7 linked regions of the Homo sapiens genome follow. The protein of the gene in region 4 interacts with the protein of the main gene of each other region in a pairwise test. Each region holds a gene or a part of one and is shown on either strand. Other genes may lie near its edges. The genes, in order: BMP7, HNRNPR, FOXD4L3, KHDRBS2, CHTOP, NCOA5 and RBM10.

What was found.
Region 1: the proteins of KHDRBS2 (region 4) and BMP7 interact in binary tests that used the Homo sapiens proteins (3 or more experiments, as listed by UniProt).
Region 2: the proteins of KHDRBS2 (region 4) and HNRNPR interact in binary tests that used the Homo sapiens proteins (3 or more experiments, as listed by UniProt).
Region 3: the proteins of KHDRBS2 (region 4) and FOXD4L3 interact in binary tests that used the Homo sapiens proteins (3 or more experiments, as listed by UniProt).
Region 5: the proteins of KHDRBS2 (region 4) and CHTOP interact in binary tests that used the Homo sapiens proteins (3 or more experiments, as listed by UniProt).
Region 6: the proteins of KHDRBS2 (region 4) and NCOA5 interact in a two-hybrid assay, tested with the Homo sapiens proteins (2 studies listed by BioGRID).
Region 7: the proteins of KHDRBS2 (region 4) and RBM10 interact in binary tests that used the Homo sapiens proteins (3 or more experiments, as listed by UniProt).

What each region holds. Positions count from the first base shown.
Region 1 is NC_000020.11:57,221,388-57,225,392, forward strand, and holds part of BMP7 (bone morphogenetic protein 7 preproprotein), read right to left. Parts: intron 1-4,005. UniProt on the Homo sapiens protein: Growth factor of the TGF-beta superfamily that plays important role in various biological processes, including embryogenesis, hematopoiesis, neurogenesis and skeletal morphogenesis.
Region 2 is NC_000001.11:23,337,435-23,341,439, reverse strand, and holds part of HNRNPR (heterogeneous nuclear ribonucleoprotein R), read left to right. Parts: intron 1-419; coding exon of another isoform or gene 420-431; coding exon 432-588; intron 589-2,831; coding exon 2,832-2,950; intron 2,951-3,578; coding exon 3,579-3,686; intron 3,687-4,005. UniProt on the Homo sapiens protein: Component of ribonucleosomes, which are complexes of at least 20 other different heterogeneous nuclear ribonucleoproteins (hnRNP). hnRNP play an important role in processing of precursor mRNA in the nucleus.
Region 3 is NC_000009.12:68,301,150-68,305,751, reverse strand, and holds FOXD4L3 (forkhead box protein D4-like 3), read right to left. Parts: upstream 2,886-4,602; 5' UTR 2,801-2,885; coding exon 1,547-2,800; 3' UTR 668-1,546; downstream 1-667.
Region 4 is NC_000006.12:61,681,108-61,685,112, forward strand, and holds part of KHDRBS2 (KH domain-containing, RNA-binding, signal transduction-associated protein 2), read right to left. Parts: intron 1-4,005. UniProt on the Homo sapiens protein: RNA-binding protein that plays a role in the regulation of alternative splicing and influences mRNA splice site selection and exon inclusion. Binds both poly(A) and poly(U) homopolymers. Phosphorylation by PTK6 inhibits its RNA-binding ability.
Region 5 is NC_000001.11:153,632,652-153,637,162, reverse strand, and holds the start of CHTOP (chromatin target of PRMT1 protein), read right to left. Parts: upstream 3,098-4,511; 5' UTR 2,820-3,097; exon of another isoform or gene 2,802-2,819; intron 592-2,801; 5' UTR 575-591; coding exon 510-574; intron 1-509. UniProt on the Homo sapiens protein: Plays an important role in the ligand-dependent activation of estrogen receptor target genes. May play a role in the silencing of fetal globin genes.
Region 6 is NC_000020.11:46,072,522-46,076,526, forward strand, and holds part of NCOA5 (nuclear receptor coactivator 5), read right to left. Parts: intron 1-4,005. UniProt on the Homo sapiens protein: Nuclear receptor coregulator that can have both coactivator and corepressor functions.
Region 7 is NC_000023.11:47,147,842-47,151,846, reverse strand, and holds part of RBM10 (RNA-binding protein 10), read right to left. Parts: intron 1-4,005. UniProt on the Homo sapiens protein: Binds to ssRNA containing the consensus sequence 5'-AGGUAA-3'. May be involved in post-transcriptional processing, most probably in mRNA splicing. Binds to RNA homopolymers, with a preference for poly(G) and poly(U) and little for poly(A).

The sequences.
Region 1 (4,005 bases), on a different chromosome or scaffold from region 4:
ACTGCCACGAGGAGAAAGAAAAAAGTGTATCCACCAGCCAAGGAAGAAAAACATATGCGACTGGGGAAAGATGGAAGCTTCTCATCCTTAATCCCCAACCCAGTATTGTGCCTTCATTTCCTTGTCTGTGAAAGAGGGTGTGGGAGCAGGCACGGTGGTTCATGCCTGTAATCACAACACTCTGGGAGGCCAAGGCAGGAGAACAACTTGAGGCCAAGAGTTTGAGATCAGCCTGGACAACACAGTGAGACCTCATCTCTACAAAAGTAAAAAACTAGCCAGACATAGTGGTGTGTTCCTATGGTCCTAGCTACTTGAGAGGCTCAGGTGGGACGATTGCTCCAACCCAGGAGGTCGAGGCTGCAGTGAGCTGTGATCACTCCACTGCACTCCAGCAGAGCAACAGAGCAAGACCCTATCTCTCAAAAAAAAAAAAAAAAAAAAAAAGAGGGGTGGGCAGGGATAAGGGTGTCTCCATGGGGGGTTGTTGTGGGAAGCAGTAAAGAGCCCCCATTGCATGCAATTAGCTTTTGTCATCATGACTGTTCCCAAAGGCAGCCATCCCTTCTCCCAGCATAGACAAGTGTCATGGGAGAGAGGAGGCTCCAAGATCGCATTGTGGACCCAGCTAAATCGATGGAAACGTAAAGAGAGCAGACCTTTCCCACAGGTGGTCTACAAGAGGGGCAGGACTGACCACCTCGTGGGGACACCCGCTCGGCTTCACTGAACGTGATATAACACCTACGGGGAATCAGGGAAAATGTGGGCAACCTGCTGAGCCCCCGCCCGCCGCAAACACTCAGCAAACGGAATCTGTTGCCATCGATTCCCAGCCACCACCCGTATGCTCCCTGTGAAGCCAGGCTCGGGATGAATTATGGGAAGAAATAACAGGGACAGAGATAAAAAAAAGCCACCAAGGCCCACCAGATGGCCTCAGGCCACAGGACAGGAAGCCAACGGGCATTTGGCCCCCAGATGCTGAGTAGGGGATACTGGCTGTGTCTCTGGCATTAACTGGATTGAACACAGTGGTTTGCCATCTCTGCCCAGCTGGGTGGCTTTTTCCAGAGGGATCCTTGCAGATCCATGAGAGGACCCCAAGCGGAACCAAAGGCATTAAGGGCCTGCCACTCCCTCTCAGGCAGCTTCAGTCTCGGTTCTGGAGTGAGGCCCAGAGAAAGGGACTGCGAGGAAAAATGCCAAGGCTCCTTGATGAGGGCTGCTCTCCTCTGACCTTCCAGGACATCCTGGAAGTTCCCAGCAGCCAAAAGGAATCCTCCTTGCCCTCTGAAAAGGCTACTCAGGAAGCTGACCTGGCACATCCTGAGAAGGCAGCTCAAAACCAGAACTCATGCCCTGGGGCTGAGGTGTAGTGGCAAGGGGTAGAAGCCAGGAGACGAGGAAACAGGCATGTAGCCTTCAGGAGCAGCAAGAAACTCCAGAGGCTTCTGGAAGCTTCCAGAAGCTTCCAGAAGCCTCTGGAGCCAGAGTCCAAAGGGATCTTCACCCTTAGCCAGTCCCTTTCCTGTGCCATTGAGACTGACAATTGTGGTCTGGACTACACTTTGGGCTCAGTCTCATGGGAAGAAGAACAGTCTTCTCTGAGACACCAAGCTGAAGGGAACATGGAATGTGTCACAGAAGGCCAATACATGGTGAAACCCCATCTCTACTAAAAATAAAAAAATCAGCCAGGCATGGTGGTACATACTTGTAATCCCAGCTACTTGGGAGGCTGAGGCAGGAGAATCACTTGAACTTGAGAGGTGGAGGTTGCAGTGAGCTGGGATCGTGCCACTGCACTCCAGCCTGGGCAACACAGTGAGACTCCATCTCAAAAAAAAAAAAAAAAGGAATCTCTTTCCTTCCTCTTGGGCATGTAAGACAGCTCATGGGTGAGAAATTAGAGAGATCTTAGCCACCTGTTCACACCCCAGCACACAGGGAATCACCTGGGAGCTTTTAAAGCACACCAATGACAGTTCAACCCCTACGGATCAGGAGTTTTAAAAGCCTCTGTGATTCTATTGCACAGCCAAGGCTGAAAACCAGCTCAGGACTCATCAATGGACCCATCTGAGCCCCAGGTGAGGGAATCAGCACTATGGGAATCACTGAGGCACGGCCATGGCTAAGATGGTGACTGCTGAAATCTAAGAGCCTGGGTTTGAGCCCCACCTCTGCCACTTTGTAGCTGTGTGCTTTTGGGCAAGTTACTTCCCACCTCTGAGCCAGGCTCCGCACCTGTAAAATGGGGATGATACATCTTCATAGGAACCTTTCCAAGGCATGAAACAAAGCTGAAGTGTCCAGCACAGTCATAAACAGTAAGCACCACGCAACAAGAAGCCTCAACCACAGGGTGGAGACATGCTCTGGAACGTGACCATGGCTCTCTGCCCAAACACGCTCATGGGGGCTAACGGCAGGGCAAAACCCGCCCAGAGTCTTGCTACCAAGTCATGAATCCGCACATCATAAGTTGCCACCACCCCAGCATCCCCAGGAGAGGACTGGGCAAGGAGCCCTTGGCCCACTGCCCGAGGGCCGCCCTGTGAGGGGGCTGCATCGTTCCTCCTACCACATCCAGCCCCACCTACCTTCTCAGGTTTATGGACCAAAATCATCACGGCGTCCCCAGGGAGCTTCTCAGAAAGGCAGAAACTCAGGGCCCCCATCCCAGGGCTAGTCGAGGGCAAGAGCCTCTGCCTGGGCTGAAGGGACCCAGGAAACTGAGCCCAGGCCTCCTCTGCCAATCCATCCTGTGTGGTGGGGACAGGCAGGGGGCAGCTCCCTCTTCCTCAGAGTGACTCAGGCTGCAGCTGATCCAAATCTTGGCCCTCGAGACCACGCTGAGGTCACCCTCCTGGCAGCCAAAATCACTGAGATGAACCCAGGGACATTTTCATCCAGCTGCCAACATCATCTCGACCTTGGTGGCGGCCGACTCCCTTGGAGCAGATTCTGCTGCCCTGGCTGGCCTTGGCCTCCCAGGGAGGTTCTCAGAGGCCAGCTCCCAAAGCAGAAGTGTGTCGCCTACATGTGGGGCAGCGCTGTGGAGTGGGGCAAGCCTGACACATGCTCAAGGAGAGACGGGGAAGACTGGGATGGAAGATGCCAGGTCCCAGCTCCACAGCAGAAACAGGGCAAACAGCACAACCCCTACCCCAAATATCCTCACCTTCACCTGGAACCAAAGTCTGCACCAATGGAGACAGGAGCAAGTCCAGCTCCTGGAAGCCAGGCCCCAGCTGGCCTGGCCTCAGGCCTGGGGTTCAGAAAATGAGGATAAGACTCCGATCCTTTCGCAGCCCCCTCTCACCCCAGCAAGGCCTCTGGAGCCAAGGCCACTGTCCCCAGACCTGCCTCTGAGCCCCCACTCGCTCCACAGCCCGCCAAGGGCGGCTCCAACATGTCTTTCCAGCTGTCTGGGGCCGCGCTTTAAGCAGAGCCGCAGGGCTATGGAAGGCCTCCAGCTCGGCTCATTATCGGAATTTAATCTGGATTCCGAGAGATCAAGAGGAGTCAGTGGAAAGTGACTCCCACAAGGGGAGAGACGCTGAGGCTGACCCAAAGCCGGCTAATCCTCGGCACCCCCGGGGCTTTCCTGGAGCTCAGGCACAGCTCGTCAGATGTCCCAGCCCTGCACAGCTGGGCAGCTGGCGGCACAGAGACAGAGGCAGCCACATGGCGGGGACAGCAGGGCAGGCTCTGGGCTCCCCCGGGCTGAGGTCTGCAGGAGGCCTTCAGCTGGAAGAAGCTGTGCGGGCCCAGGTTGGGGACATGCAACCAGGTTGGGGACATGCAAAGAAAAAGCCTATCTCTGAACAGGCGAGCTGGAGGAAGCGTGGGGGATTTGAAGAGCATTTGCAAGCTCAGGGCTTTGTTCCTACTGGAAGATTGCAGAATTAGGGGAATTGGCTCGGTGGACCTACATGGGAAGGCAGTGCCACAGCCACCACCCAGGGCTCTTGTCTTCCTAAAGAGGTCTTGCTCCAC
Region 2 (4,005 bases), on a different chromosome or scaffold from region 4:
CTTGATTAAGTGGTCTGTGGGTGTTCATTCTGTTTTTAAAACAAAACTTTTTAAAACTGTGTAAGACCCGAGAGCTGAGGGGCTTTTTAGTAAAGGATTTTGTAGTGATTTTGATCTTTTCACCAGGACAGAACAGCTGCTTTTGTTAATCAGCAATTCTACCTTCAGTAAATTAAAGCCTTTATCTTACCCGGTGTACATGAAGTTCCTTAAAGATCTAATGCTTCCATGTACATTTTCTATGGTTTTACAGGATTATTATTGCCAATTTAGGTCAGATACATCACAGGAGGAATAAATTATTATTTTGATAGAGGTTATTAGCAGCATGTATACAAATTAGTTTAGATAAATCATGCATTGTCCTACAAACTAGTTATTTCTGGCTTAATGTAATATAGCTCCTGAATTTTTTCCAGCAGCATAATAAAATGGCTAATCAGGTGAATGGTAATGCGGTACAGTTAAAAGAAGAGGAAGAACCAATGGATACTTCCAGTGTAACTCACACAGAACACTACAAGACACTGATAGAGGCAGGCCTCCCACAGAAGGTGGCAGAAAGACTTGATGAAATATTTCAGACAGGTATAATATGCATTTCTTGTTTCTGACTGGTTATGAAAGTGAGGGCAAACCACTTTGAATTTTATAGTTTTTTAAGGTTAAATAATACTTATTGTTTCTGATCTGTAGAGCTGAATGTTTGTTACTTTCCCTTCATTGAAGGCATATTGGGTTTGACTTTGATACTCTTATTTCATTATTTTGAAGCCTTCTTAGTGTTGAATATGCAGTCTTAGTTGTTTCAGAACAGCACATCGATTTGTCTTAGATTTACCACCCATAAAAATGTATGTTTCTGCATACCAAATTTTACATTTTTTTCTTAATCAAAATCAGTCATCATTTTGCTTTTGCTTTTCTACTTTTACCTTCTTAAAGTGATTGTTAAATCAGCTTAGGTCTGATTAGGTGGCATAACAAGAGGATAGCTGTATCGTCTGAAACCATAATAAATGTCAGACTCCTTGAGAGTTTGTGGCTTGTCTAGTTTCTAATAGAAATCCACATCTCTCCGTAATTTGGAAGTGTTTGGTTGTAACAGCTGCTTCTTTTTTTTTTTTTTAATCCAGAAGTGCCATGGTTAAGTGCTTAAGCAAATTTGAACATCTTAATATAGTTGGTTGTAAGTGGTTTGAAGTTTTAAAGAGGGAGAGAAATATTTACCCTTAGGGAGCGTTGTTCATAAATGAATGTGTCCTCCTCCTTTGGGGACATAGATGGAAACTTTCTTCCTCTGTGTTGTGTGTGCCTATTCAGATTCTGAGAGAGAATTGAATTGTCTCACTCACAAATGTGTCTTAAGTACAGTAGTAGCAAATAGCTGTTTTTTTTTTTTTGTCCTTAAAAAATTTTTAAATCTGGGAAGCTTAGCATAATTTTAGACATTAAAATGACTTATAAAAATGACTCCTGGGTCATGGTCGCATTTGAAAATCAGTCCTCAGGAACTTTCTGTGACATTCTGCCATAGAGAATTGGCAGTGATCTGCTTAGAGATGCTCTCTTGTAGAGTGTTTTGTTATTGATAAGAGGCTGATGGTTTGGGCGTAGACTTGGTTTGACAAAATGGATTGATGGGTGTCCTGAGTTGTGGCTTCGGGTGGTGGTATGGAATATTCAAGTGAGGCAGCTCCAGTTATTTACACATGCTCATTTCGAGCTTTTGAAACAAATCATGGCAACTTTTTTAAAAAGTAACTTTGGAAGTGGCATTACATTTATTTAAAATTTACTATATGGAATAAAGTTCTTTTTAGCTTTATCAAAATGGAGTCACTTTTCATGTTCATATGAACTTGGGGGTTTTAATCTACGAAATACTTGCATTTTACGTTGGATCAATTCTGAAATATATTCCATATGTAAATATGACACAAACTTAACAGACTTAAGAAATTATATTTTAAACTTAGTAGATGTTCTGTGTGCAGTTGAATATACTTACATATATGAAATGCAGTGTATATATTTTCTGTCAAGTTTACTTGTAAGACCATAAAGTCTTTATTGCCATTTGAAAATGATTGTCGTTCTTGACAGTCAATGTGAATGCCACAGCATCTTTTAAATCTCAGCTTGTCACTTCAGAAGAACAAAGAATGCCTTAAAGTATGACTTTCAGAATTGATTAATCAAGCTGCACTTGCATTTGTAGAAGTTTAAAATTATGCCTTTCCACATTCTGACTGCAGCAAAGTGGATGCTCAGATAAACAAATGCATTTCAGTTTATCTTTGGTGTTCAGGAGGGAAAGCCTTTTGACACTTTTTGGAGAGTGGAAAGAATTACTTAGTAAAATTTGTTTTCAGATTTTCCTCCACCTCTTAGGTGGTTAGCATCAACTGTAACCGTCTGTAATTTGAAGGTTTATCCTTGGAAAACGCAATGTATTCTTATCACTCTAATATAAACCAAAATTTGTTGTATTAATGCATAATCTGTAATACAGTATGTACATCAGATTTAACTTTCAAGACTTATACCTTTGGGGGAGTGGGAAATGGATGTTAGGATTTGGCGGGGGAGGTTTGTGGATATGGAGATTGAAATTCATGTTTTTGGTTGTTGACATTTTATCTTTATTTTCATATTTGTCCTGGACCTTTCTATGTAGTATTTGGATAGCTGCGTATATGCATATAGTTAAATGAAAATACAGTTTGTTAGTGATCATATTGAATGTAACAATTCTTGATTAAACGTCAGTAGAGCTTAGATTACCCCTTTTGTTGCAATAACGTTACCCCTTTCAATTTAATTTTTAGGATTGGTAGCTTATGTCGATCTTGATGAAAGAGCAATTGATGCTCTCAGGGAATTTAATGAAGAAGGAGCTCTGTCTGTACTACAGCAGTTCAAGGAAAGTGACTTATCACATGTTCAGGTAAGGTCGTTACTCAGAAATGTCTTTGAACAATTAGTAATCTGAAATTATTTTACTATTACTTTTTTTCCTATGGAGAAGTGGTATTTTTTGTTTGTGACTACCTCTTCTTTTAAAAAATTAGTTTAAAGGAAAAAAACTGCTTGTGGCAGAGTTTCAGAAGCCCAAGTATAAAGCAAAAGTTTTCTCCCACCCCCTTGTGCAGTAAGTTATTTTAAAAACTTAAAATTAAAGCCAAGTTTTGATGGTTGTTACTATAGGTTTTTACATGTTACTCAGCTTTTTAACATTTGGGGGTTATTTGATCCTGTTTTATTATCTTGGAGGAAAATGTAGGTGGGAGGAATAGTTTCCGACATCTGGCAAAGACAGTCTAGATACAGTCACATATCAACAAGTGGAAGACTGTGTTTTCCCAGGGTAGAAGGTAAGCTCCCTGAGGTCTATACTGCCTTACTGCTGTCTGCTCCAATCTCTGGCACATAGTAACCACTCGGCAAATACTTGTTGAATGAATCAGTAAATCTTTTGTTAAAATCCTGGTTTTCTGAAATTTAAATTTAATTATGTATCTGACCCTTCAGATATTTTTGGTGATTCTTTTTATTGAATTACTTGTCTGTTCTAGAACAAAAGTGCATTTTTATGTGGAGTTATGAAGACCTACAGGCAGAGAGAGAAACAGGGGAGCAAGGTGCAAGAGTCCACAAAGGGACCTGATGAAGCGAAGATCAAGGTAAAACTTGACTTGGGTAGTTGTAATGAAATTGCATTTAATGATGAGGTCAAATGCCTCTTTCCATGTTTCCTAGAAAGTTTCACTTTTTTTTTTTTTGAGACGGAGTCTTGCTCTGTCGCCCAGGCTGGAGTAGCGGCGCAGTCTTGGATCACTGCAAGCTCCACCTCCCAAGTTCATGCCATTCTCCTGCCTCAGCCTCCCAAGTAGCTGGGATTACAGCCATGCACCACCACACCCAGCTAATTATTTGTATTTTTAGGAAAGATAGGGTTTCACTGTGTTGGCCAGATTGGTCTCGATCTCCTGACCTTGTGAT
Region 3 (4,602 bases), on a different chromosome or scaffold from region 4:
CCTCAGAACCGCAGGAGCCAAGAGGAAATCTCCCGTAGGGGATCTCAGGTAGGGCGTGCCAAGAAATTCCAAGAGACGGGATGGAGAAGAGAAGCCGGAGAAAAATCGGCCAATTAGACTCCTGTAAAAATGTGTGTCTCCATGTTTGTCCTCCCTCCTGAAATAAGAAATTCATAGCTGGGGGTGGGGAGTAGATGGGGGCTGGGGGAAAAACTTTCTCACATTCACGGAGCAGCTTCCCTCAAAGCGGCACGGAATCGGGAACCCCACTCAGGACAGGGGAAAACGGCCAAGTTCCTAGAAATTTGTTTTCTTTGTGGGGAGCAATTCATGATGGGCGTTCTTGTCTGGTTTCCCCCCACTCCGTCCCCTGACGCCGAGTAACACTTAAACCTTTCTAGTTGCAAAGTCTTTTCAGAGTTGTTTTTTTTTTTAAGAAATAAGTTTTGAAAATTCTAGTGCTTAAAATATATATATATATATATATATATAATTTATAGCCTTTTATTTTCTCTGAGTACATGTTGGCCACTACATTCCAAATTTATCTCAAATGGTTTTCCAGCTTGTTGAGGGGTGATGAAAAATAAATGGAGAATATATTTACATGCCCTCCTATTCTTTTCTTTTAGAAGTCTCATAAATAGTAAATTTCCTATTTTAAAAGCCAGGACATTTTCAACCTCAAATATTTGGAATTTTTAAAGGCCATATTAAAATGGATTACTTCTGCTATCTATAATAAATATGAATTGTGAAAATAAATTGTTTGAGGGAAAATAACGTAGGTTTTAAAAAGTTCCATTTAGAAAGGGAAGAATGAGATGTAATAGAAAATAAACGATGTAGTGTAGTGACTTAGCATTTTATTTCGTCTATATAACTAGGCTTAATTTTAACACCTTAATTTTAACATTAAAGATGGCACGTCAGACACACAGATAAGAAATCAATGTTCTGAAATTAATATCCTACTTACATTAAACATCCCTATCAGGAAGACACAGAGAGTAGAAGCATTTTGCACTAGACTTAGGAATAATACTTCCAGCTCCAAGGAAGTGAAGAAGGGGGAACATGTTTGGCATCGGAGGCTGTGTTTTTGTTTGCTTGCTTGTTTTTCTTTTAATGCCAGAACAAAATACCCCACTCACGTTCATAGTACCCCAGGAAATGCGCAAATCGGGACAGCCATAGAAGCCACAACCGAAGGCAAGAAAAGATGACTTGACGCCCTGCGAAGGTTACGTTCAGGTGGTTTTTAGAGGAACGTAATCCAGCTGTTTCTTTCTAACCATTTTGCAGCGAACAGAAGTTCGTGTTTGCTCTCCAGCGGGATTCAGATGCACACGCCCAGTATGGGCCGCGCAAGGTGGAGTGAGCAGCTGCGGGTCGCTCCCCACTCCCACCTGGCTCTAGGAGGGCCCTGCGGAGTTGGCCAGGGAACTGGGCGTGGGCGATACTAAAAAAACTGGTGAGGTCCCCTCTCCGCCCAAAGGGGCAGCCAGCGATGTCAGCCTAGAGCCCTCTGCCACTGCCTGATACCTCAGCAGGGCCGACGAGGCCGACAGGTGCCCGCCCAGCACCGCGCCCTTGGTGGGAGCGCAGCCGTTGGCGCAGTCCTCCTCCTGATGCTGCTGCTATTGCTGCAAAATTGTCCGAGCAGCGGCGGCGGCGGACACTTGCAGCAAAGGGGCAGCGGTCTGGGGATGCAACAGGCTTGATGGTCGCTGGAGCAGGTGGCAGTAGCTCCACGCGGTCGGGGACAAATTCTGCGCAGCCCCTGTACCCGCTCCCCTGACCCCTTGCATAATACTCTCAATGCTGAAAGAGATGCATCCGCCTCCCGGTGGCGACGCCAGACCCTTGCCCTCCTCCCAAGGCTGAGGACCAAGTGAGGGCTGCAGCACGGGAAGGGTGCCGGGGTCGCCAGGGCCGCGCCTTCTGCTTTCTTCGGTGCCCCGGCATAGACGGGGGCCGAGAGCAGTAGGTAGCGAAGAGGATGCGGGTGCAGCAGAGCGTAAGGGCGTCTCCCGGGGGCGGTGTTGGGGTAGGCCCCCGGGACTGGCTGCGGCGGGGCAGGGGCCCCAAGCAGAGGGCCTGGGCGGGGGTTGTGCAGGGCGGCGTGTGCAGCAGGTAGAGGGAAGGGGTGGGGCAGGTGGGCTCCCGGGGTCAGTTGGTGGCGCTTGAAACGCTTCCTACGCCGGAGAAAGCTGCCATTGTCGAACATGTCTTGGGAGGCGGGGTCCAGGCTCCAGTAGTTGCCCTTGCCTGGGTGGCCCGGCTCGCGGGGGATCTTAACGAAGCAGTCGTTCAGCGAGAGGTTGTGGCGGATGCTGTTCTGCCAGGCGGGGAACTTGCGGCGGTAGTAGGGGAAGCGGCCACTAATGAAGGCGCAGATGCCGCTGAGCGTGAGGCGCTTGTGCGGGTTTTGCAGGATGGCCATGGTGATGAGCGCGATGTACGAGTAGGGGGGCTTTGCCGGCTGCCGGGCATCTTCAGAGGCCGCCGCAGACCTTGGCGGTGCCCTGAACTTGGTGCCAAACTCTGAGGGGTCGCTCGGGCCGCCGCCGCCCTCGATGTGCTCTCGGGGAAGCGCAACCCCGCCCCACCGGGCCACCTGCAGCCCCGGCTGGAGCGACTGCTCTAGGAACTGCTGGCTCGCCGCCTCCTCCTCGTCTTCCACCTCGTCTTCATCTTCCTCCTCTCCCAGGACATCGATTTTACCGTCTTCCCCATCGGAGTCCCGGAGGCTGCGCTGCGGTGTGGAGCGAAGGCGCTCAGCTCTTGGCAGGTTCATGGAGGAGCAGGTGCTTCAGTCGCAGGGGATGTGGCGGCCGATCACCTGGCCTGGGGCGGGCTGAGCTGGAAGCCTGGGATGAATGTTGCAAGAAGCAGGAACGCTAGTGGTTACCCTTTGGGATGTTTTCGTCTGCTTGTTTCTACTCCTTTGCAACAACGTCCGGCAAAGATGCCTTTGCCTTTTATAAAAGCTTCTTCAAGACCATGTGTGGTGGACTCCCCCCTTTATAACCCTTCTTCCCCTACCTCGGAGCGGTGCCACTTCCTCCTAACGTAGTCCAGGGATGATGGTCTTCTGGGCAAACACCCGTCCGGAGAAAAGCCCAGCCCCCTCCTCCTCGCACCCACCTGCCACCAAGGAAGATGCTCTACTCATCCGGTGCAGCCAGACAGTTGGCAAGCCTTTGCACGGGTTCTGTTAAGGCGCATTTAAACCCGCGCAAATAAAAGCGAGGTAGGAAAGTATGATACTCAACATTCTATGACCACCTCAACATGCAGCCTTCCCGCCTGGAGAAAAGAAATGGTGGGGCAGGAGGCTGAAATGTACACGGTTGTTTGTAAAGGAATGTGTAACCGTAAAAGTATGTTTTTGTGTTTCACAGCTGGTAATCACCCATTTTCATTGGTAGAGTCTGTCCTTACCCAGAATGGTGAGCTGAATTATATTTAAGGTTCTGACAATATTCCCAGGCTTCAGGGGGGTGTTGCTTTGCTCCTTCTACCTTCCTTCCCACCTCCTCAAGATGCTCTCCCTGACTCAAATTTTCAGAAAAGGCTCAAATGTCCCAGCACTAAATTGTGTAAGTTTACTCAGGGAAGGCAGGAGAGCTCACACGGAGTCCTCTGTCCCCTTGTAGCAATGGTTCTCCAATTTCTTTGAATATTTAACCACAGAAATACATTTTATATCACAATCTCACACATACAGACATAATACATAACTAAGATGGGTTTCACGAAACAATATACTTACACTATAGTGATCACTGATATTTCCTTTTAAAAAAAAATGGCCATAACCAACTAAATTGATTTCACACATACCAGTATGGGCCCAGTTTGAAAAATCCTGTTCTTACAAAGTGGCCCCACATACAAGAAATGCACCCACTCTATAAGGGCTTCTCTCTCTCCCTTTCCTCCTTCCTTTCTTCATCCTTTATAACCAATTCATTTTTAGAGACAGGGTCTATGTTGCGCAGGCTGGCTTTGAATTCCTGGGCTCAAGTGATCCTCCCGCCTCAGCCTCCTGAGTAGGTGGGACTACAGGCGTGCCACTATGCCTGGCTCTGGCTCTTCATTCTTTTTTTTTTTTTTTTTTTTTTTTTTTTTTTTGAGACGGAGTCGCTCTGTCGCCCAGGCTGGAGTGCAGTGGGGCGATCTCAGCTCACTGCAAGCTCCGCCTCCTGGGTTCACGCCATTCTCCTGCCTCAGCCTCCCAAGTAGATGGGACTACAGGCGCTCGCCACCACGCCTGGCTAATTTTTTGTATTTTTAGTAGAGACGGGGTTTCACCGTGTTAGCCAGGATGGTCTCGATGTCCTGACCTCATGATCCGCTTGCCTCAGCCTCCCAAAGTGCTGGGATTACCGGCGTGAGCCGCCATGCCCAGCCTCTTCATTCTTTCAGAAATGTCAACATTAAGTGCTTTTACTGTAATAAAACTTGGGACTTCAATGAGGCAAGAAGGGGCTGCAGTGTTGCCTTTAAATCAGTGGGTCCTCATTCACTATCTGCACTGGGGAGGGGCAATATGACAGCACAACTGTTCATCTCACTCGCTCCACATCCTTAGAA
Region 4 (4,005 bases):
CAAAAATAGTCATTTAAGACACAATAGTTGACCGAGAAAAAGAAAACAAAAGATCTCAACACCGAACGCTAAAGCCTATTTTTTCCACATCGTGAGACCATCAAAAAAGTGTGTGTATATAAATGTGTACTGTGTATTTATTATGTGTTAGATTTAAATGCCACAAAATAGAAAGAGGAGTATCAATGTAAACCCCTGCCCATAAAATCTTTTTACATAGAATTCTTAAAAATAAATAAATAAATTGGATATAGGAAACCAGTAGTCCTTAGCCCTTGAATAACTTGAGAATCACCTGGAAATATTAAACAATCAAAATAAAAGATAACTAACACCTGCTCTCTGTCCCCCAAATCTACTGATTAGAAAACTCTATGGGCTGGGACCTACGGTTTGGTATTTTTCAAATACTCCCCAGATGATAGTTATATGGTCCAGGGTTGAGATCCATTGTGTTAAATTGTATAGAGAAAGTGAGAGACAAGCAGAATATAGAGTAGAAAAAACCTTAAGCAGCAAAATCAGTAAACAAAACAAAACACAAAGATATCAGTTTTTCCAAGTAAACAACTCAGTAAATAAAGAAGTATTAGTACACCAGGAAAACTCCATTTACCTGCTAATTTTGGCTAGGTTCCAAAACATTGAGGGTAGTAGAAATCTATTATTCCAAAAAAGCAAGAAACAAGTAACCAAGCTTTTGAGTACTGTGGAAAATAGCTATTGTAAAATCTGTGTCCCCAGAAAAGAAATGCAATTCTTCTTTAAAATAACTCAATGTTGGCTTTATGGTGACATTTTATGTGATTCCAGCAACTAGGTTATTTTGGTCTCTCAATCAGAATTTAGTTCCTCATCAAGAGCAGATTTCATGCATGGGTGTGTAAAAGGAGGTGCAGACAAAGGAAAGAAGGTTACTAGAGACGCATAGATATTGATAATTGATATATAAAAAAATGGAAATATTAACTGGGAAACAATTGCAGATTGAGGGCAACTAATGTAGGGCATTTGCCCCCAGATAGTTCCTCCGATCATAAGAATTAGTTGAGAAAGACTACTAGAAAAGCATAAAAAATTTCAATTGTACTCATTATAATATAGAGCAAATGAAAACAATCTACTATGTAGAAAAATGATCAAAAGTTTATCATTGTTGGGAAAAATGGCACTTAAGTGGACAAATATTAGTTTTTTGAGAATATTCTCACCAGGGCATTATTATTACAACTGATACCTGATAATAAATAAAAAATTATATCTCTTTCACTGTTTAGTCTTTTATAGGATATAAAATAGGAGTAAGAAAGAAATAAATATAACAAATGTTCCCATTGCTCAAAATACAGGTTTACTTGGATCAGAGGTTGGCATACTCTGGCCTGTGAACCAAATTTGGCCAGCTGATTGTTTTATAAATAGTTTTACTGGAACACAGGCATGCTGTTTATTTACATATTGTCTATTGCTGCTTTCACGATACAAAGGAAAAGTTCAGTAACTGTGATAGAGATTATACTGCTTGAAAAGCCTAAAATATTTATACTCTGGGCTTTTACAGAAAAAGTTTACAGATCTGTGCTCTAGACCATGTTGTTTTTGGTGGGAAAATGCAGATGTTGGTCTTTCTGATGTAATCTTTTGAGGGCAGGAATTTATCCCCAAACCATTTGACTTTATCAACATAAAAATGAAAAGAATTCCATGTATTTGCTTGATTGGAACTAAATAAAACTGTTTTTGGTGTACTCAAAGGGAAAACACATTCAGTGTGTGCAAGCTTGAAAGTACCTTCTTAGCCTTATGTAAAATGAATATTTACACCACGTTTATGAGATAATCCAGGCTATATCATTGTTTTTGTCCTCTGATGGTAAAATGTATCCCAATTTATCATGGTTTTTAACAAAAAGAATGTACTACTTTTTGCTCCAATTATTCCAGAGTGTTAGAAATCCCTGGGTTTCACTCTACAGGATTTAAGAGCTGAGACAATAGAGGCTTCAAGTTTTCCCAGGAAATAGAAGTCCCAGGTCCTTTTTTAGATTCTGAATGTTCCTGAAAAACAGCTAAACAATCATGAGCGGAGTGACAGAATACTTGTCACATACACTCCCAGATTTTTTCAGAATTTTAAATTGACATAAACCTAGGGACTTGCTACAGAGGACATAAGTGTTTAATAACTACTCATCAACTTGGCTTCAGTTGACTTTTTCTAAATCTCTAGGGCAGTTAATTGATGAGCTAAAACTCTTCATTTCCTAAATGTTAGCCAACATTAGAATAGGGACTGTTGCTATTCACTGTTGTTTCCCAAGTGCCTGGGAGAAATTCAATGCCTAGTTAGGGCTGAATGTAGTGAAAGGTTACATGAAAGAAAGGATGGATGAATGAACAAGGGAACTATGCAGAAAGTTCCAGTGATAATTCAAAAAACAGAAACAGTTGAGCTAAAGAAATTTAACATTTATTTAAAAAACTCTTTAATTAGAAATCTTATATATTTGTTATAGAGTTAAAGATCAGACTTCTTACTCAAAAGGGTTATCTAAGTATCAAAAATATTTCACTATTGAATTCAATGAAGTAATCGTAGTGCGATCTCATTATTAAAAAGTACAAAAGTATCATATTTCATGGCACAAATATGTGCTCTTTTATAACGCTCTGCTTCTATGTGAATTAATACTATGCTCTTTCTCCTTGCTCAAGGCTAGGAAAATGGAAATTATTGTTAGTTCATGATACTTGTACGTGGAAAAGTAAATCGCCAGCCAAAGTGATTTCCTATCCAAGCAAAAGTAAGTTTCTAATTTTCCAAGATTCCATACCATTAGCAGAGGAAATTAAGGACTTATTTCACTTAATTCAGACCTTGCTTCCATTGTTTACATGTTCTTGGTAACAATAGCAAAGAGAGATCAGGAAAAGTATTATTTTTATTTGTGTCCATCTTTATCTTTCCTAATATCAGAATGTTTATGTATAGTTACACATTTACAATTGCCACATGATAATGCACGTCAGTTTTTCTTAGTGAAAATATGTTCTTTGGATTGAGATTGGAGAGTACTGAACCAATGAACGTTTTTCCAGTGCCACCATAGAGTGTGTCATTGAACTTTATATGGTTGGCCAAGCCCCTCATTGCTCACCAGCGATATTTAGGCCTCTGGATTTCTTCACTGCAAGTACCACATATAGAAGGGATTCTAACCTGAGTCCCATGGAACCTTGAGCATGGAAGAGGCCCAAACATAGGGAGAGACAAATCATGACTGGGTTCCTCATGATGGGAGTTTCTCTGAAATTTGAAGTTGTAAAGACCCACGAATGAACTTAGAATTTATCTGTCCTCTTGGGTCTCTCAGTAGACAAGCAGATTCTAAATATTTAAAGCCTTCCTACGAATTTTAGAGTCCTGTTTTTTTCTAGTCCCATGGTGTGGTCTAAGATGTCATTTAAAAACTCATTGCATCCAGTGAAATTTAGAAATTTCTTTATCCTTTAGGGAAATGATAAAATAAGTAAGATTCTCTCAATATCAGGATCATTGTCACATGAGAAGCACTGGCTAGGCTATGAATTAATCCAATAACAAATTCCTCCTCAAAAAAGGTACCAAATAACTATACGCCAAATTGAAATTATGGAATGGGTTACATAATTGTGAATCTGAAAATAGCAAATCAGGATATGAGAAACAGAAGTTAAGTGACTTGATCCAATTGCCACCCTTTTTTGGCTTCCAATTCAGGCTTTAAAGTATCATATATTATAAGAAATATTAGATAAATTTATATTTATTATATGAATAATAAAGCATCACTAAACACATTTTTTATTTATTGAAGATCTCCTATATGCCAGTTACTATACTATGTCCTGCATATAAGGACAGTTTAAGGGGCCCATAAAAGACACAGGAAAAAATGAACCTGAAATTTCATAGGTTATGACACAATTTTAATTGATGTTTTAAGAAAATGCTGGGGAAAGCAC
Region 5 (4,511 bases), on a different chromosome or scaffold from region 4:
GTAGAAGAATCCAAAACAAAACCAAACTAAAAGCAGAATGGAAAGAAAGTGAAATGGAGCAAAGCGAGTGCCTCTTACAAGGCCCAAGAATGACATTCAAGGGCCTTTGGACATATTCATGGCTTGCTACCTGCCTCTTACAGGCCAGACACAACACTGCTGGCCTTGGACTGGGCAGCAAGCCTACTGTAGCCAGGGTACCATGCTACCGTGCTGCACGACCCCAGTATCAACGTAAAAAAATGTGAAAAGGAAGAGTGTTAGGAGTCTTTTAAAATACATCCCACCAAATAAATACTTCAGACAGCTTAACATAAAAGTCTACTGATAAGGGGTTTTGAAACAACCGCCCAATTTGTTTTGTGTACCACATGAGATGCAACTAAGAACAGAGGTCTGTAGCCTTCTGTTGGTATTTAGCTTAAAATTGGCTTTGTGCATTGGACCCCAGGGCCAAGTTAAGTAATGTTTTCTTAGGAAGGAGTTGAAGTTGCTGTTGGCTGCCTCACCGCTCATTTAGAGACATCTTGGTGGTGCTTTTTAGCACAACTTTCGGCGCTGACTGTGCAGCCATCTTCGAATCCCGAGAATCTACAAAGAACAATACGTAAAATGAGCAAATCACAATAGTGACATCATTTCTATAAGTGGCAAGGCCCAAGCCAAAAATAAATAAAAAGGCCTTATCACTGATGACTAAAGAGCACACGAGGGCACATTTCAAGTGCTTAAATTTCTTTTTTTTTTTTTTTTGAGACAGGGTCTCGCTCTGTCACTCAGGCTGGAATGCAGTGGCCACTGCAGCCGTAATCTCCTGGCCTCAAAGGATTTTCCCACCTTGGCCTCCCAGTGTTGGGATCACTGGGACCCAACGCCCAGCAAAAGTTCTTAAGTTTCTATGGCAATTACCTCAGATTATTATAACTTCAAGGTGGCTGGGTATGGTGGTTCACCGCCTGTAACCCTAACACTTTGGGAGGGCAAGGGCACAGGATGGTTTGAAGCCAGGAGTTAGAGACCAGCCTGGGTAACAAAGCGAGACCCAGTCTCTACTAAGAAAAAAAAAAAAAAAAATTAGCGGTGCATGGTGGCCAGCACCTGTTGTCCTAGCTACTCAGGGGAGCTGAGGTGGGAGAATCGCTAGAGCCCAGGGGTTGGAGGCTGCAAAGAGCCGTGATCATGCCACTGCACTCTGGCCTGAGACCCCATCTCTTTAAAACAAACAAATAACCCCAAACAAACAAACAAACTTCAAGGCCCACAAAATACCCGGGAATTTCTCAAAAACGGCAGAAGCCAATCTAGCAATCAAAGTATGGAGTCTGGCTTTTTTTTTTTTTTGAGACAGAGTCTGGCTCTGTCGCCCAGGCTGGAGTGCAGAGGCGTGATCTCAGTTCACTGCAACCTCTGCCTCCCCGTTCAAGCCATTCTCCTGCCTCAGCCTCCTGAGTAGCTGGGACTACAGGCACGTGCCACCATGCCCGGCTAATTTTTTTTTATTTTTAGTAGAGACGGGGTTTCTCCACGTTGGCCAGGGTGGTCTTGAACTCCTGACCTCACCTGATCCACCCACCTGGGCCTCCCAAAGTGCTGGGATTACAGGCGTGAGCCACCGCACCGGGCCGAGTTTGGCTTTTACTCTAGAGCAGTCATTTTCAACCTTGACTACATATGACTTATCCAAGGAGCTTTTAAAACATAGGGCCGGACAGGGCGGGCGCGGTGCTTCACGCCTGTAATCTCAGCACTTTGGGAGGCCAAGGCGGGAGGAATGCTTGAGCCCTGGAGCTCGAGACCAGCCTGGGCAACATGGTAAGACCCCGTTTCTATAAAAATATAAATTAATTAAAAAAATAGAAAATACAGACATCTGGGCCTAGATCAATTAAACCACAATCTCTGGTAATGAGGTTTGGAAATGAACCAATTGTGGGGTCGGGGGAAAGCTACCTAGGTGCTTCTAATGTGCAGCTAAAGTTGAGAACCACTGATCTACAGTGAAAATACAGGCAGGGCCGGGCGCGGTGGCTCACGCCTGTTTTCCCAGCACTTTGGGAGGCCGAGGCGGGCGGATCACCTGAGGTTGGGAGTTCGAGACCAGCTTGACCATCATGGAGAAATGTCTCTACTAAAAATACAAAATTAGCCGGGCGTGGTGGCGCATGGCTGTAATCCCAGCTACTCCGGAGGCTGAGGCAGGAGAATCGCTTGAACCCGGGAGGCGGAAGTTGTAGTGAGCTGAGATCGTGCCATTGCACTCCAGCCTGGGCAACAAGAGCGAAACTCCGTCCCCCCCCAAAAAAAAATATATATATATATGTATGTATATATATACATATATATATGCATGCCTAGTTTCAAAAGTGGCTTTCAACTCCAGAATCAAGTAGGGACTTTAACAAGAAACTGACGATCTGGGGGAGTAGGAAAGGTTTTCTAAATTCACCTGGGAATTAGCTCGCAAAGAGCCCTCCACAAAACTTAACCCTAAAGCCGCCATTAATTTCCAACATTCCTCAAAGTCTTGTACTTCTTAATCTCCCTACCATCCTCAAAGCCCTGTCAAGACTTCCACTTCTGCTCTACCCGCCAAGTTTCCTTTTTATCCTATCAAACCCCAACCTCCATCAATCCCGCCACCAGGTTCCAGTTCAGCCCCTCCCCCGCCCCTTCGCAGGGGCTCCGCCTCCTCCCCGGGGCCTCCACGCTCCAACACCGTAGCTATGTCCACATGCCACCACCCCCTTTCCGCGTCCGCCGGCCCCTTCCGCTCCTCAAGACCGCACCTCCCCCGGCTCCTTCTCACTACCGAAACTCACCGAAGGAAACAGACGCCAGTGCTCCTCCCGGGGCTGCCACCACGGCTCCGGCAGGCGGGCCGGGGACCGGCCGAACCTGAGTTGACGGTGGAGGGGCTCGGGTTAGCTAGATGGGCGGTTGGTTAGATGCGTAAGCGGTAGTATGCGAGCTCAGTTCGTTGTTGCTGGTTGGCTGTCTAGTCGGCCGATCCGTCTGCTCACCCGGCCTGCCCTTTCCTGCCTTTCGTCTGCAGCGGCCGCCAGCTCCTGCTCGGTGTCCAAAACAAAATGGCCGCCACGTCCAGTGCTTGTCTGACCGGCTAAAATGGCGTCTACGCAATTACGTCAGGCGTCAGATCCGCGCACGACTAGAGGGCGGGAAAGATTTGAGCTACGCCTGCGCAGAGGTCAGAGGCGGAGCCTTAGGGCGAAGGCGGGGCTTTCCATGCAGTGCCCCGCCCCTAGGGGCGTGGCCAATGGTCCTGTTGTTGGGGCGTGCCGGGGACTTCACGTTCCAGTAGTGGTTGCGCTGCAACCTCTTGGGGGTAGTTATTAATGTGGGCCTTAGAGGGGATTTGGGTCCCGAATTCCCTCGCCCCTCCGTTCCCTAGCCAAGGTACACCGTCTAAAAATCTTTACGCGGACTTGCCTCGTCTTCTTCCGGACAATTGGGCCTGGGGAATTTGCACTGGTTTTCCCCTCATGGCCACTCGCCCAGTCTGAGAGTTGTGAAGTGCCGTAAATGCTCCAGCCAAGGCCCAGGAGGCCAGTATTAGGAGCAAATTCCTCTCCCATCCTGCACCGGCCAACACCACCGCCCGTCCATGTTTTCCTCCTCACTTCCTCCCCTCCCCAACTTGGCCTAGATACTGTTTACTCCTTCTTGGGGTGGGGCACCTTTGCGTCCTCGATTGCGTTTCCATGTCCTCCCCCCACACCTGCCATCCGTGTTTATTTTGTTGCAGACCTACATAGGGATTTCTCTTTTCTCTCTCTGATTTGTTGTTGTTATTTTGAGACGGGGTCTGGCTCTGTTGTCCAGGCTGGAGTCAGTGGCGCAATGAATCACGGATCACTGCAGCCTTGACCTACTGGGCTCAGGTGATCCTCTCACCTCAGCCTCCCGACTCCTAGGATTATGGGCATAAGCTATGTTTCCTGCTCAATAAGGGATTTTTCTCTCTTTCTTTTTTTTTTCTTTTTGCAGATGGAGTCTCGCTGTGTCACCCAGACTGGAGTGCAGTGGTACCATCTCGGCTCACTGCAACCTCCGCCTCCCAGGTTCAAGCGATTCTCCTGCCTCAGCCTCCTGAGTAGCTGGAATTACAGGCGCGTACCACCATGCCCCGCTAATTTTTGTATTTTTAGTAGAGATGGGGTTTCACCAGGCTGGTCTCCAACTCCTGACCTCAAGTGATCTGCCCGCCTCTGTCTCCCAAAGTGCTGGGACTACAGTCGTGAGCCACTGTGCCCGGCCTCAATAAGGGATTTTTCTAATGACTATGTGCACAATACAGTGTACATATGTTTGAGGAATGAGAGAATGACACATCTGCAACCCTTCCTCTGCTCCACTGGCACGTCAAGACCCTTTCATTTTCCTTCCTGGCACTTGGGCGTGTGCGTGTGTGTATGTGTTTGTGTGTGTCTGTGTGTAAGTAATGGCCCAGCATCCTTACCCATGTGAGGGTAAGGATCGTGGTTATTTTGCTT
Region 6 (4,005 bases), on a different chromosome or scaffold from region 4:
CTACAACCTCTACCAATGCCATGAAGGTCCTGTATAATCTTGGCTCCTGTCTTCTCTAACCCTGTCACACCCTCTCCCTAGTTCACCACTCTTTGCCACACCGGCCTTTCAGCTCTGCCTAGCCAACGTCTTTCCTGATCCCTTTACGTGAGTAGCAGGAAGAGATCTATACTCCTCTTCCAGGTCTCAGCATATAAATATCCCCTACTCCCTGATTGTTAGATTCAATCAAAGTTTACTTTCTGCCCCTAAAATTCTCTCATAGCACTGTTTTCACTTTTGTCATTTATCACAAATTGACATTACATATTTACTTAATGTCTGTCTGCCCTACTAGACTACAAGTGCCACAAGGACAAGAACTATGTCACTTTGATTCTGCACTACAAACCCACTATGTAGAACAATGTCTGTTATACGACAGATGCTCTATATGTATGTTGAATGAATCTTGCTCCAGTACAAACTTCTATAACCGCACTTACCACACTGTTCTGTAATTGTTTACGTGGCTTCCCTACCAAATAAGAAGTTCTCTTGAAGGCTTTGTAGCTCTAGGATACACCATAGGAGTTCAGTAAATGTTTAATGAATTGAATTATTCTACTAAACTGTAAGCCTCTCAAGAGCAGGCAGCATGTTTTGCTCATACTTTTGTCGTCTACCATGGTTACACACGTTAGGTATTCATCATGATGTCATCAGCTTGTGGAAAACCTCACCTCAGCTACACGGGCACAGCAAAAACAATTTAAATGCCAATTTTGCTTCCATGAAAAATATTTGTTATATATTCTAAGGTTCACCAGCATTCCTGACTTGTGAGAGCAAACATATCATAGACCAGGGACTTTAAATGAGAATAGCTAAGCATTATTTTTCTTATTAGAATAAAGTAAAGACTAACCAAGATTCTTACTTCAACCTTCCTTATTACATCATATAATCTTCCTAACATGTAACATCTGATGTAGCATGTAATGTGGGCAAACACTCAAGATCCAAAGAGAAAGGACAACTGCAAAGTATTTTTGGATTAATGATCGGCAGATAAACCTGCCTTGGGGAGCAGTTAGAAGTAGTCATTAGAGGTGGAATCCAATTTCAAGTGTTCTTGGCAATCAGGGCTGAGATATCATGATCCTGACAGACCACAGACCACACACAAAGCCTTGGGCTGGTGGAAATCGGGGTGGGGCATGTCATAGCATGTTATTTACCACCTTCGGAGTATTATAAGTGTTATGTTATGATTGGTCCTCATTCTTTTGAATCCACTGAAAAACCTTACTTACCTGTCAAAGTCCATCCCTGCAAGTTGACTAAAACTCTAGATTCGCAAAGTCTGGGTTCAATCTTCCAGTCTGAGAGGGCAAGCCCCACCCTTTCCCTCAAATAATTTGAAGTCCATGTGCAACAAAACTACTAATTCCCTCTCAAGTGCCTTCAGGGTAAAAATGTAGAAGAGGTGATATTCACAAAAGGAAAAAGAACCAAAGGCATGGTGGAAGTAGGGACAAAGAAGATAATAATTTTCTCAAAAGGAAAGGCAAAGCCTTTTTTCCTTTCTCCAAAAGATAAACACTATGGTAGACTGCTGTTCTTCTGGAGACGAAAACAAAACAAAAAACCCTTTAGGGTTGCTTTAGGACCCAAACAAAGAACTCCTCAGAACAAAAGGGCTCCTGCTGCTGGCCCCAACATATTTTTCAAAACAAGACTACAGCTAACAAAAGGGCAGTAGTATGCACGAATCAAAGTGCAAGAAGACAAAGCTTCCTGTGGGAGACGCTGGACCTCAGATGATAAGTGGGTTAGAATCAGGTTTCTGGAGCATAATAAGGTTAACAATATCATCCCACAGCACCAGAGGTGTTTTACTAAAGGAACCAAATGCAGCATACCCTCAGGTACTACATCACTAGAGGATAAAAAGAAACTGAACAGTGGTTAAATTTCAGCACTGGAGTCCACAAACTGAAGGCAGGTGGCAAACACAACTAAAATTCTGCTGTAAATTCCTCATCTATTCAGGAGGGGGAAAAAGGCAAATACTCTTTGCCTTGAGGGGAATATAGTCACACTGCTGGGAAACATTTGAGACGTAAGGGCGAAAGGGGTGAAGGGGAAAACAATGGCTCTGGTGGCAAGTGATGAGCTTCTGGTAGAATGTGTCTCTTCCTGAGGACTAAAGGGGTGTGCAGAGCACCAGGCATGTGACAGCCTACAGAGTAAGAACTGATAGATGATCATCTTGGAAAACTGTGATGGACTTTGAATTTCTCTTTGGCAAGAGACTGAAACTTCACATCCAAGATGGTTTTCTTTGGCTTTGGTTCTACAGACGGTCAGGGAGGAAGACCCCTGTCTTTTTCTTTCTTTTCTGCAAAGGTCAGCATCTCCTTTCTTCCTTTCTGTTCACCGGAATGTCTTCCTTGGGAGGGCCAGCCTCTTTCTGACCCTGAAAAATCCTTCATTAGCTCTTCAAACTTCTGTCACAGATATACTGTCCACAAATATCATCATCTAAATGGCTGGCTGCTGTATGATGTTGATCCTCCACCAGGAGGGCTTCATGCTACTGTTAGAAATGGAGACAACAGACTTGTCCAGAATATTGCCATTAGGTGGAGGTAGGATATGGACGTGCAATGAGATATCACACCTCACAGACCCAAATTTTACACATGTCCATGCTTTTCCTTAGGAAGCACTGACAACCTTCTCCAGCACAAACAGAACTTTCTTATTGGTAGAGGTGGCAGCTGCTGAGAACTGATGACTTCTTCAAGTGTTACTGCAGAGGTAATCACAACCTGGAATTTCTTTGTGGCCCACCTAGAGCAAGGGCTGTCTCACAACCAGGGAGCAAGCAATAATCAAAAGCATTAGGGCCCTGTGGATAAGCAGAAAGCATTTCAGGTCATATAAGAAACTTGTCTACAGCCAGGTTATTTCTGATGAGCCGATACCCAATGACTTTCACCAAAGAGATACCAGGTTTAACATCTTTCACAAATATATGGGGAAAAATCCTCTGCAGAGCGTTGGATGCAGACAAGTTAATTCTATTTGTTCTTCTTTAAGTCATTCAGAAGTACAGTCTTACTTCTTGTACCTAGAGGCCACATCTGCATAAAGATATGCTACAAGATCTGGACTGTCAAGGTGTTGAGCTGAAGATGGTAACTGAGATATCTAAGGCACAACTGGAATCATGATCCTGTCTTTGAAGAAGGACTAATGCTTAGTATCGATGCTTGACAACTTGCATGGTAACTATGCAAGGTACTCACAGGAGTTCAATGAAGTGGCCCTCAAGAGTTAGATGATAAGAATTCAGGCTGAAATGTGATCCAGAGCAGAGATTCCTCATGCAGAGTTCTGTGCTTGGCTGGGCCAATATTGTCAGAATTACACACTGACAGCTGGAGTCATCAGGGAGTCATATTATTGAATAGAGAGCAAAGCCAGCAGAACTGTGGTTTACTGAAACATCTGAAGAGGTGATAATCCTGTAAAACTCCCAAAGATACCTACGTTAAGTCCAGCAAAACAAGGTGTTATAAAGGTCTTGCCAGTATGCTTATACCAATATTCTTATTAAACGTAGAAAGCGCTAAAAATGTAGAGGTATAACTTTAGGAAATATTTGCCATAGGTAGTGTTTTTTTTCCCCTGTGAATGATGCACCCCCTGTGGCTGGGGGCATACAAAATGATTAGGGCTGCCAAATAAAGGCAGTTTGTTGTTGTCAACTATTGATACATTTGGAGTTATCTCAAGGCTTTGACTGGAAGCATGCACCCAAAGGAGGTACCCAGTGTTCACCCTCAGTTAAATGATTTGCCCCTTCCAGATTAATTACTTGCCCGTCTCACCTACTCTTTGCAATTTATGTCTGCCCTATTGGTATATCTTAAGAGATAAAGTATGATCAGGACAATGATTAAAATGTTAGTGCTCGCTATTTTGAATACAATGTTAAACCTGTCTTTTTTTTTA
Region 7 (4,005 bases), on a different chromosome or scaffold from region 4:
ATAATTTTCTTGATTTATTAAAGGATACATTCTAAAAACTTACTGCATGCACCATACTTAATGGAGAAACTTTAGACACATTCCCTTTTATTCCTCTCCCTTCTTCCTACTGTCTCAACTGCCATGTGCTGAGGATGGCTACACAGAAGGGGCTGCCTGTCAGCCCTAGATTAATTGCTCTTCTGCAGACTGCCTTTATGGGAAAGAAAAGTAAACTATCTTGTCTAAGCCATTATCCTTTGGACTTTCTGCCACAACCAGCCAAAGTAAATCTTAATTTGTGTACCCAGTATCACTTATACTATTTAATATGGTACTAAAAGTCCTGGACAATACTATAAATGAAGAAAAATAAATAAGTGACAGGATAGATTTGCATACAATATGACCAACTACTTAGAAAGAACATCAGAATCAACAATGAAGTATTAGAAATAATAAGGGCATACAGCAGGGGTAACTTACAGAAATCAACAGCTTTCCTCTACCCCAGCAAATACCAGCATGAAAAATATTTTTTAAAAAATAAGATAATGGCCTGTAATCCCAGAACTTTGGGAGGCCAAGGTGGGTGGATTGCTGGAGCTCAGGAGTTCAAGATCAGCCTGGACAACATGGTGAAACTCCGTCTCTACAAAAAATTAGCTGGGCGTGGTGGTGCGTGCCTGTAGTCCTAGCTACTTGGAAGGCTGAGGTAGGAAGATCACTTGAGCCTGTGGAGGTCGCCACTGCACTCCAGCCTGGGTGACAGAGCAAGACCAAGTCTCGAGAAAAAAAAAAAAAGATAATGAAAGTGACTGAAGTACCTAGGGATTACTTTAACAAAGAATACATAAGACCTGTATTTCCATTTATGAAAATGAAAGCTTTTTATGCTCTTTACATAAATTTCAAAATATTCTCTACAAAGGTCTTAGATGAAATGACTACTTACAAAGATAATTTTCCCCAAATTAATAGAGAAGTTCAGTGTAACATCGATCAAAATTCTTGTTGTTTTTGAGGGACTTTGATAACTTTTGATATATAATAAAGCCCCATAAATGATTAAACCAGCTTTGAAAAATAAGTGCAAAGGAGCTACTAAGACATTCTATAAAGCCATAATAATAAAAACAGTAAGGTGCTGGCACAAGAATGTGCAAATAGACCAATGGAACAAATCACATCACTCAAGACGGATCCATGTACATGAGGGAACCTGAAATCAGATGAGGTACCACAGATCAATAAAGAAAGAATGGACTATTTAGGAGGTGGTACTGGAAAAACTGCCTACTATATGGAAGAAAATAAAACCGGAGCCTACCGTATGCCATATTCAAGAGTGGAATCTAGATGGATTAAAGATCTGAATGCAAAAGGTAAAAACTACATTAGGCTGGGCGCAGTGGCTCACACCTGTAATCCTAGCATTTTGGGAGGCCAAGGCGGGTGGATCACCAGGTCAGGAGATCGAGACCATCCTGGCTAACACAGTGAAACCCCATCTCTACTAAAAATACAAAAAATTAGCCAGGTGTGGTGGCGGGCGCCTGTAGCACCAGCTACTCGGGAGGCTGAGGCAGGAGAATGGTGTGAACCCGGGAGGCGAAGTTTGCAGTGAGCCGAGATCGTGCCACTGCACTCCAGCATGGGTGACAGAGCGAGACTCATCTCAAAACAAACAAACAAACAAACAAAAAACACTATACATTAACAGATAAAGCAAAAAAGGTGACGTTGGGCTGGGCACGGTGGCTCACGCCTGTAATCCCAACACTTTGGGAGGCCGAGGCAGGCGGATCACCTGAGGTCAGGAGTTCGAGACCAGCCTGACCAACATGGAGAAACCCCATCTCTACTAAAAATACAAAAAATTAGCTGGGCGTGGTGGCGCATGCCTGTAATCCCAGCTACTTGGGAGGCTGAGGCAGGAGAATTGCTTGAACCTGGGAGGTGGAGGTTGTGGTGAGCCGAGATCGCGCCATTGTACTCCAGCCTGGGCAACAAGAGCGAAACTCCGTCTCAAAAAAAAAAAAAAAAAAAATGATGCTAGCACATCAAAATTAACAACAGGCATCTACTCTTGGGGGAAGTATTAAGTAAAACTCAGTAGACATGCCCCATGATGCCCTTGCCAGCAATTAGAAACAAAGTAGTAACATATACATGGCAATACAGACAGATGTTAAAAATACAGCACTGTGCCGGGTGTGGTGGCTCATGCCCATAATCCCAGCACTTTGGGAGGCCAAGATGGGAGGATCACCTGAAGTCGAGAGTTCGAGACCAGCCTGACCAGCATGGAGAAACCCCATCTCTACTAAAAATACAAAATTAGCCAGGCGTGGTGGCACATGCCTGAAATCCCAGCTATGTGGGAGGCTAAGGCAGGAGAATCGCTTGAAACCGGGAGGCAGAGGTTGTGGTCAGCCAAGACTGCGCCATTGCACTCCAGCCTGGGCAACAAGAGTGAAACTCTTTCTCAAAACAAAGAAACAAAACAAAACAAAACAAACAAACAAAAAAAAACAGCACTGTTGGCCAGTTACAGCGGCTCATGCCTTTAATCCCAGCACTTTGGGAGGCCAAGGGAGGAGAATTGCCTGAGCCCAGGAGTTTGAGACCAGCCTGGGCAACATAGAGACACCCTGTCTCAAAACAAAAAACAAAAAACAAAAAAAACCTCCCACTCTGAGTAATACAAAGTTCAGGAAACAAAACGAAGACTGTGGCACCATGCCATGTGTGTCAACTGAAAACACAGTCACTCAAAACAACACTTCATATTTTCATTTTCTATGAAAATGTATCTATATGATACATTTATGTATGTATTTATATGATACATGTATCTATATGATACATTTATATGAAAATGATCTATATGATAAATCTATGATACATTTTCTATGATATGTATCATAGAAGGATACATTTTCTATGATATGTATCATAGAAGGATACATTTTCTATGATATGTATCATAGAAGGATACATTTTCTATGATATGTATCATAGAAGGATACATTTTCTATGATATGTATCATAGAAGGATACATTTTCTATGATATGTATCATAGAAGGATACATTTTCTATGATATGTATCATAGAAGGATACATTTTCTATGATATGTATCATAGAAGGATACATTTTCTATGATATGTATCATAGAAGGATACATTTTCTATGATATGTATCATAGAAGGATACATTTTCTATGATATGTATCATAGAAGGATACATTTTCTATGATATGTATCATAGAAGGATACATATCAAACACGACAGAGCAGCTGCCCACAGAGGTGGGAATTGGGAATAAAAATGAAAAAATAAACATGACAAGAGGAAGCCTTTTGCTGACCTATGACAGAAACCTACCTTGAACTGGAAAGTATGATGAACTCAAACCTCTGCACTTGAGGGCTTTTAAAAGTCAATGGTTTTACTTGGTAATAAAGTTTGAACAAAGTATGTATGTCAGCTACTCAAATTCAGAAATGGCCACAGAGCACTTCTAGTGAATACCGTCCAAAATCAAATGTCTTTCAAAAAACATTTCTAATGAAAGCCAAGACTGAATAACACTAGGTGATGACCTTATCTCAAATTTGGGCTCACTTTTCAGAAAACAAAATATTACAATTCTACATTTTTAAAAGGAGTGGTGGTAGAAGAAACACTTCGTAAAACATTTTAAAAATTATTTTCTCTTTTTATAAAGCTATTGACTCTTGAGTCTTAATAGAGGCTTTCTGAGAGAGTTAGGTCTGCTTTTCTAGGCAATCTTCAAGTGTCATGGCTGGGTCACCTGCCTCGGAATCACCTGGATGGCGAGGGATCACTGAATTTTACTCAGGATTTCTGTATTTTACCCAGTGTTCCAGCTATTCCTTGTTCATAGCAGAGCTGAAGAAATAACTGTCTGAGAGTATCCATTCCCAGCAAGTATCATGCCAACTGTAGCCCATACTGTCCCTGGAGTCTTCCACTATCTGACCTGGCTTGTCCCCTAGTG